2 linked regions of the Homo sapiens genome follow. The protein of the gene in region 1 purifies or fractionates together with the protein of each later gene. This does not show direct contact. Each region holds a gene or a part of one and is shown on either strand. Other genes may lie near its edges. The genes, in order: CFAP69 and B3GALNT2.

The links.
Region 2: the proteins of CFAP69 (region 1) and B3GALNT2 purify together in Homo sapiens (affinity purification with mass spectrometry; one large-scale study listed by BioGRID and IntAct). This does not show direct contact.

The regions. Positions count from the first base shown.
Region 1 is NC_000007.14:90,272,396-90,276,218, reverse strand, and holds part of CFAP69 (cilia- and flagella-associated protein 69), read right to left. Parts: intron 2,233-3,823; coding exon 2,109-2,232; intron 1-2,108. UniProt on the Homo sapiens protein: Cilium- and flagellum-associated protein. In the olfactory epithelium, regulates the speed of activation and termination of the odor response and thus contributes to the robustness of olfactory transduction pathways.
Region 2 is NC_000001.11:235,497,721-235,501,543, forward strand, and holds part of B3GALNT2 (UDP-GalNAc:beta-1,3-N-acetylgalactosaminyltransferase 2), read right to left. Parts: intron 1-3,823. UniProt on the Homo sapiens protein: Beta-1,3-N-acetylgalactosaminyltransferase that synthesizes a unique carbohydrate structure, GalNAc-beta-1-3GlcNAc, on N- and O-glycans. Has no galactose nor galactosaminyl transferase activity toward any acceptor substrate.

The sequences.
Region 1 (3,823 bases):
TTGACGTCCACTGTTAGTGGGCTGAGGTCGTCACAGCCAGTTCTTTGTAGCACAACTAGAACTTACGTGACTGACTTGTGAATATTGTTGCCAAGGATCTCTATTAAATAATTTCAATCATTCAATGATTTTTAATTATAAAATATGTGAAGGCTCAGCTTCTGGTACAGATGAGTAGTAGCTCCGAGAGAAATTCTCCTGCTGGTGACAAATAAAACTATCTTGTGACCAAGAGTAAGCAGACACTGGAAGGATGTCAGAATTTTGTAGAAGGGAATGGCACTACACGAGTTTCCCATTTTAAAAAAGGCTTTTGGGGCCGGGCGCGGTGGCTCACGCCTGTAATCCCAGCACTTTGGGAGGCCAAGGCGGGCAGATCCTGAGGTCAGGAGATCGAGACCATCCTGGCTAACACAGTGAAACCCTGTCTCTACTAAAAATACGAAAAAATTAGCCGGGTGTGGTGGCGGGTGCCTGTAGTCCCAGCTACTCAGGAGACTGAGGCAGGAGAATGGCGCAAACCCGGGAGGCGGAGCTTGCAGTGAGCTGAGATCGCGCCACTGCACTCCGGCCTGGGCGACAGAGCAAGATTCCGTCTCAAAAAAAAAAAAAAAAAAAAAAAAAAAAAGGCTTTTGGCCTGAGAGCAGGCCGTATTCTACACCTCGTGGAAATGCTAAAACTCAGAGTAACCCTGTGGTCTTAGTGGCCTGAAGAACCAGAGGGCAGAGGCAACCACAGCCATTGGAAAGTGAAGGGAGAAATCCCATAAAGGAGAGAGCCAGAGAGAGAGAATGCTAAATTCTGTGTACAAACTCTTCCCAAATATCTGGCTGATAGCTGAACCACACAAGTGCAGAGAATACTCAAGCATCCCAGGCAAGAACTGAATTAAGATTTGGGCTGCCATACCTCAAAAAGGGATGAGTACAGCTAAGTTAAATATGTAGTTATTAAAAATTCTTCAGAGGAGTATACCAGAATCTACAGTAAAGATGCTCATAATGAATAGAAAGATAAGAACTCTCAGGAGAGACACTATAAAAAGGAATAAAAATAAATTCTAAAACTGAAAAATATATCTGAAGTAAAAATGCACTGGATGAGATTAACAGCAGAATGGAGATGACAGAAATAAAAAAGTCAGTGAATTTAAATATATAGACTAATACAAATTATCCAACCTGAAGAATAGAGAGAAAAATGATTGAAAAAAGTGAGCAGAGCCTCACAAACCTGTGGGACAATATCAAAAAGTCAAACATAAAAGTAATCAGAGCCTCTGAAGAAGTGGGGAGAGAGAATGGGGCTGAAAAAATATTTGAAGAAATAATGGCCAAGAGTTCTCCAAATCTTCTCAAAGACTTAAATTTATATATCCAAGAAGCTCTATGAAACCTAAGCAGAACAAATACAAAGGAGATCTCACCTTAGCACATCATTTCGAAACTGCTAGGAACCAAAGATAGAGTTAAAATCTTGAAAACAGTGAGAGAAAAGGATGATATATTATACATAGGGGAATAACGATTTGAAATAATGGATACTTCTCATCAGAGTCCAGGGTGCTCACCATTACACCATGGAACCTCACAATGAATATTTCTCATCAGAAACAACAGACTCCATAAGACAGCAGAACTTTATCTTTGAAATGCTAAACAAAAACATTTTTCAGCCTAGAGTTCTATATTCAATGAGCATAGACTTTAAGAATTAAGATGAATTAAATATATTTTCAGATAAAAGAAAACTAAGATAACTTGTTGCCAGCAGCCAGTAGATTTGCACCACAAGAAATTGTAAACAAAGTTCTTCCAGTGAAAGAGAAATGATGCCAGATGGAAACTCAAATCATCAGGAAGGAAAGAAAAGCATCATAAGTGGTAAATACATGTATAAATCACACAATATGAGGAAGATTCCAAATTTCCAAAGGATTGCAAAGAAGAATTGGCAGAGTGATAAGCACACTGGTGACCATCAAGATATTACAGCATAACTTAGCATTACAAGAAAATACACAAATATTCCAACATAATATAGGACTTCTTTCACCCAAGCCCACCACTTCCACAATTAAAATTAATGCAATTTGATTCATACTTACAATCATTGGTGCTTCAGGATTTTGAGCTATAATTGTAGTGATCACTAATATGTCATTTCTAAGCTGACGGTCATAATGACTGAAACCTCTCATAAACAGATTTTTAAATACTTCCTTCAAAGCCCTAGAAAGTAAAATCATATTTTAAAAACTATATTGTTATACACTAAATGTTTGCGTCCCTCCAAAATTCATATATTTAAATCCTAACCCCCAATGTGATGGTTTTAGGAGTGAGGCCTTAGGGAGGTAATGAGCCCTCATGAATGGAATTAGTGCCCTTATAAAAGGGACTCCAGAGAGCTGTCTTGCTCTCTTTCCTCCATGTAAGAATACAAGAGATCAGCAGTATGCAACCCAGAAGAGCACCCTCATCAGAACCCAACCACACTGGCACCCTGATATCAGAATTCTAGCCTCCCAAACTGAAAAATAACTTTCTGTTGTTTATAAACCACCCAGTTTACGGTACTTTATTATAGCAGCTCAAACTAAAACACACACTTTTATGAAAATACTTCCTGAATGTCTATCAACAAAATCTCCCTTTTTATATTATACTATTCATTTGAACATATTTCTAATATTTTTTACACTTCCAAATCTGCCTCTAATCCTCTATGTACCAGATAAGAATCCACTAAACCAGTCTATTACACATGGTGGTCAAAGTGACAGCTCTATAACACATTCAATCATGTCATTTTCCTTTGTAAAACCATTTAAAGACTATTCTTTGTTCTTAGGATTAAGTCCTACCTCCTTAACAAGGCTTATTAGACCTTTCATGTTATGGTCCCTGATAACATTGTTAGCCTCATCTCTCACCATTGTAGCCTGTTCCTTCTGCTCTCATCATACTGAATTTTAGTTTTCTGATTTTGCTAATTATATTTTCACTTGTTTTCCCTGTCTAGGATGCTCTCCGCATGCAAAACTTTTCTGTTACCAAGTCCTGTTTGTCATTCAGTTACTAGACTTGAGTTCATTAGGAAGCAGTTATTAATTCTCCAACTCTGAGTTAGGTTCCCTTGTATTAATAGTAGATATTTGTTGCTTTGCCTCCTGGGACCTACTTGCCCTTTTTATAAGAACAGCATTCTTATTTTTATTTAGGCATTTACTCCTTCCTGACTTTTGCTCCTGTGAGGCTGCCTTCAGCTGCCTTTTCGCCAGTCAGAGCATTTTTTCTTTTGGCACTAATAAATCACTGTGGAACAGGCATTTGACCAATATTAGACCATTCAGGGCCAAACTGGACTCAATTCAAAGACTTTTCTCTGAGCCTTCAGGATAGCAAGGTTTCTCTTCTGCTTGATTTGAGGTTGAAATGATGTGATCGTAGACTTCTTAGGTCTTACTACATAGGCTTGGGTGTGAAGCCAGCACCATGGAAGACAATGTAGAGAGAGGAGGGACGAAGTCCTAGTATCTGCTGATCCCTGAATAAAGCTGCACATGAAACCAGTTTTATCCTTGACTTTGTAGTTAAATAAGCCATAAATTTTCTATATTGCTTTGGTCATTTGGGTTTTTAGTCACTTGCAAACAAAAATGTGCTGACTGATCTTCTTCTGAAGAACATGTAGCATCTTACAATAATCTGTTTCATAACATTTAGTATGTTCTCTTTTAGTTGTCTATTTACTTGTCCATCCCTCCTAGCACAATGTAAATTCCACGAAAGCAGAGACAATATCTATATTGTTTTCAGT
Region 2 (3,823 bases), on another chromosome or scaffold:
TCTAGCTGCTGCTCAGTTCGGTCTGTTTTTTCACCTGGACCAGTACGAGGGCATCCTAACTGGTTTTTACCTGACTTCTCCATATAATTGTCAAACAAGATTTTTCTAAAAATAATAAAGAAATACAAAGATAACCATGTGACATGTGAAAATCCCATGGATTATGGATGGAAACCTCTTTTTGATCTTATTCCACCTCTCTGCCACTCTCAATCCCCCCTGCTTCTAATCCATGTCTAAGCTGCTTCTGTTCAACTGCTTTACTTTACATGCATTTCTCTTTTTCTTGCAGAGGGAAAGTAACACGGCATATCGTGGTCTTTTAGAGAACTACTTCAAGATATATTGAAGTCAAATGTCAGAAAAATAGGTTTTTTAACCACATACCATTAATGTAAATTAGTCCAATAGACTCCTGAGTACTGTGTTACACAGTACAAAACCCAAAGCAGATGCATAATAAAATACCTATGTAAGAATGTTGCTCAAATTTCTAGCTCCCTTTACCAATCTGGCTCTAAACTCTTATCACCTTTTATGTTACAAGAACAGGGTACCTAGTTGACTCCAGTGTCTAGAAACAGAGGGAAAAAAAGAAAGTGGTAAGAAGTAAACATGATACAGAAGGACATAAAGATAATTCAGAAAAGAAAAAAGGCAAATAGCAAGCCTATGAAAACATGTTCAACTTCAATAAGAATCAAGTTTGAATTAGAGCAATGAGACACCAGTTTTCTCCTACATTCAAACTGACAAATGTCTTCTTAAATGATTGTAACTAAATGATGGTACTTCAAGGAAATGTTGTTAGTGATTTCAACAAAGTGGCTACTCTCCGCCGGGCACGGTGGCTCATGCCTATAATCCCAGCTTCAATTTTGGGAGGCCGAGGAGGGCAGATCACAAGGTCAGAAGTTCGAGACCAGCCTGGCCAATATGGTGAAACCTCATCTCTATTAAAAATACAACAAAAATTAGCTAGGTGTGGTGGTGCATGCCTGTAATCCCAGCTACTCGGGAGGCTGAGTCAGGAGACTTGCTTGAACCTGGGAGGCAGAGGTTGCAGTCAGCCAAGATCCCGCCACTGCTCTCCAGTCTGGGTGACAGAGCTAGACTCCTTCTCAAAAAAAAAAAAAAAAAAAAAAAAAAAAAAAAGGCTACTCTTTTTCATTGCGGGAAGGAATGTAATTTGGTACAGTCTTCTGCAGGGCAATTTGGCAATGTGTCAAATAATTTAGAATGGTGTAACTTTGTCCAGCAATTCTAAGAACTCATTCTAAAGAAATAATCAGTGATACACTCAGAAGATCTTTATTAATCATAGTGTCACCTATTAATAGCGAAAAACTGCAAGCTACATAAACACATAAAGGACTCATTAAATAAATTATGGTGTAGCTATATGACAGAATACTATGCAGCCATTAAAATTACATGTTAATCATATCATTAAACATTATTCTATTAATACATCATATTAAGATAAACAGGCGATAGGAACTATGTAGATACTAGACGGTTCTGTTTATATAAAGTACAAAAGTAGCCAAATTTCTGCCACTGGTTACTATCCCTGGTAGTGACAAAACAGAGCATGAAGGGAACTTCTGAAGCACTGATAGTTTTCTTTTTTTAAATCTGGGTGGTGATTAGTTGGGTGTGTTCAATTTGTGAAAATACATCAAACTGCGCCAGTTTTATTCTCTTGATTTATTCACTCAAATGACAGAGCATCTCCTATGCTCATTGTTCTAGATGGCACAGATACAGCAGTAAACAAAATCTTCATAATGTCAGGACTAAATCACAATCCCAAGCAAGCTCCCTGAGGGCAACGTAAGGGCCAAGGGAAAGTTTTCCCTCTGAAGGTTCGGTGAAAATCACTGACAAGAGATGGACAGGAGAAAAGGCATATAAATTTATTTGATCAGTAAAGATACAGGAGAAAGTGCCCATTTCTGTGCTTAGGTTTAACAAAGTATAGATAGCTATGTGGAATTAAGATTGGACAGAAAGGGTAGGATCTAATGTTAACAGATGGAGTTGGAAAACCCAGCAAGGCCTGTCTAGATTCTTCTTGTCCTCTCTGAGTATACATTCTTTCCTACTGGGTATGGGATAGGACCCTCTCTGGTATGAGGTTCTTATGACCTTTAATAAAAGAAGGTAAGTTAGGTAATTTTTATATAGAAAGGAGGTGGTGGGGGCTAGTTAGAGTAATATGTTTAGGTTTTATGGCTGGCTTTGGGGAAGAGGGATTTTAGTTTCTACAGCTAGCCTCAGGTGAGAATGCAAGGCCAGAGAGAGGACAGCAGCAGCAGGTCAGAGACAGCTGCTTCTGAGGCCTTATTTTGGGGTATTGTTTTCTTCTGAGACCCTACAGTAAGAACTATTTCTTTTCTTAATATGTAATATATCCTGAGAGTCTGGCAACCTGCTCAACCCTGCACTGTGAGTGGACATCCAAAGGTATATTAAAGTCTAAGGGAGGGCCTGGCGCAGTGGCTCATGCCTGTAATCCTAGCACTTTGGGAGGCCGAGGTGAATGAATCGCTTGAGGTCAGGAGTTCGAGACCAGCCTGGCCAACATGGCAAAACGCAGTCTCTACTAATAATACAAAAATTAGCTGGGTGTGGTGGCACACACATGTAACAGAGGCTGAGGCAGGAGAATGGCTTCAACCCGGAGGCAGAGGTTGCAGTTAGTCAAGATGGTGCCACTGCACTCCAGCCTGGGCGACAGAGTGAAACTGTGCCTCAAAATAATAATCAAAAAAGTCTAAAGAAGGTTGACATCAAAATTGATTGCTCAAAATAAGCCCAAGAGTCTTAAAAATCACACCAAAATTCCACTCTGATATGCATGCTCTTGGAAGAGTCACAAATAGATACAAATCTTGAAAATGAAGAAAACATGTGAGCCTGTCACAGATCTAATGATAAAGACAATCATCATACACACTACCAAAGACACCTCCCAAAACACCACACTAGCACAGGCATCAGCGGCCACCAGACTACCACTCCTCTCTCAAACTCATGGAGTGTTTACTATGAAACAGGCACTGTTGCGGGTGTTTCATTAATTGAATCTTCACAATAAGTCTATGAGATCATCATCTTATAAATAAGGAAACTGAAGCACAGAGACACAATTAGCATATAGGGATAATTTTGGAAGAACTCACCCCAGGCAAAATTACAAAGCAAGCTCAATTTGTTTTCTGACCTTCTACTTGCTCTACATCTGTTTCCATTAGATACTGTGAGCACCTTGGGAGAAGGGACTAGGCATCCAGCACAGAATCTAACACTCAAGTACTTGTTGAGTGAATATGCTCCTTTGTTTTGGTTTCTTTCTTTCCAGATACCCTAGAAAGCGAAGCCTTCTTTTGTCACATCATTTTTCTAAATTAACCGTTAAATAATTCCTACTTAAGGCATTACCCAAAACGAGCATTTTGTAATCAAGATATCCTATGTTTAGATTCCTTAGTCCGATGGTTATCTCCACCTGCATTTTCCTCTGTCACCCTCAGGTGTACTGGATTTCACTTCCTCTTTACCAGTTGCTTTCCCTGACTGGTTTAAGGGAACCTATCACATTAAAAAAGTTGCTGACTCTGGTACTAAGGTGACTCACTTACTTCATTCTGGTCCCTGCTCAACTGTTACCTCTTCAGAATGGAATGGACTTCCCTGACCTATTTAAAACCATCTCTTTAATCTCTTAACACTGCTTTATCTTTTTTCCCTATACTTATCACTACCGCTGTGATATTTATAATTATTTCCTGATGCTCTGTCTTCCCTTCTAAATTGT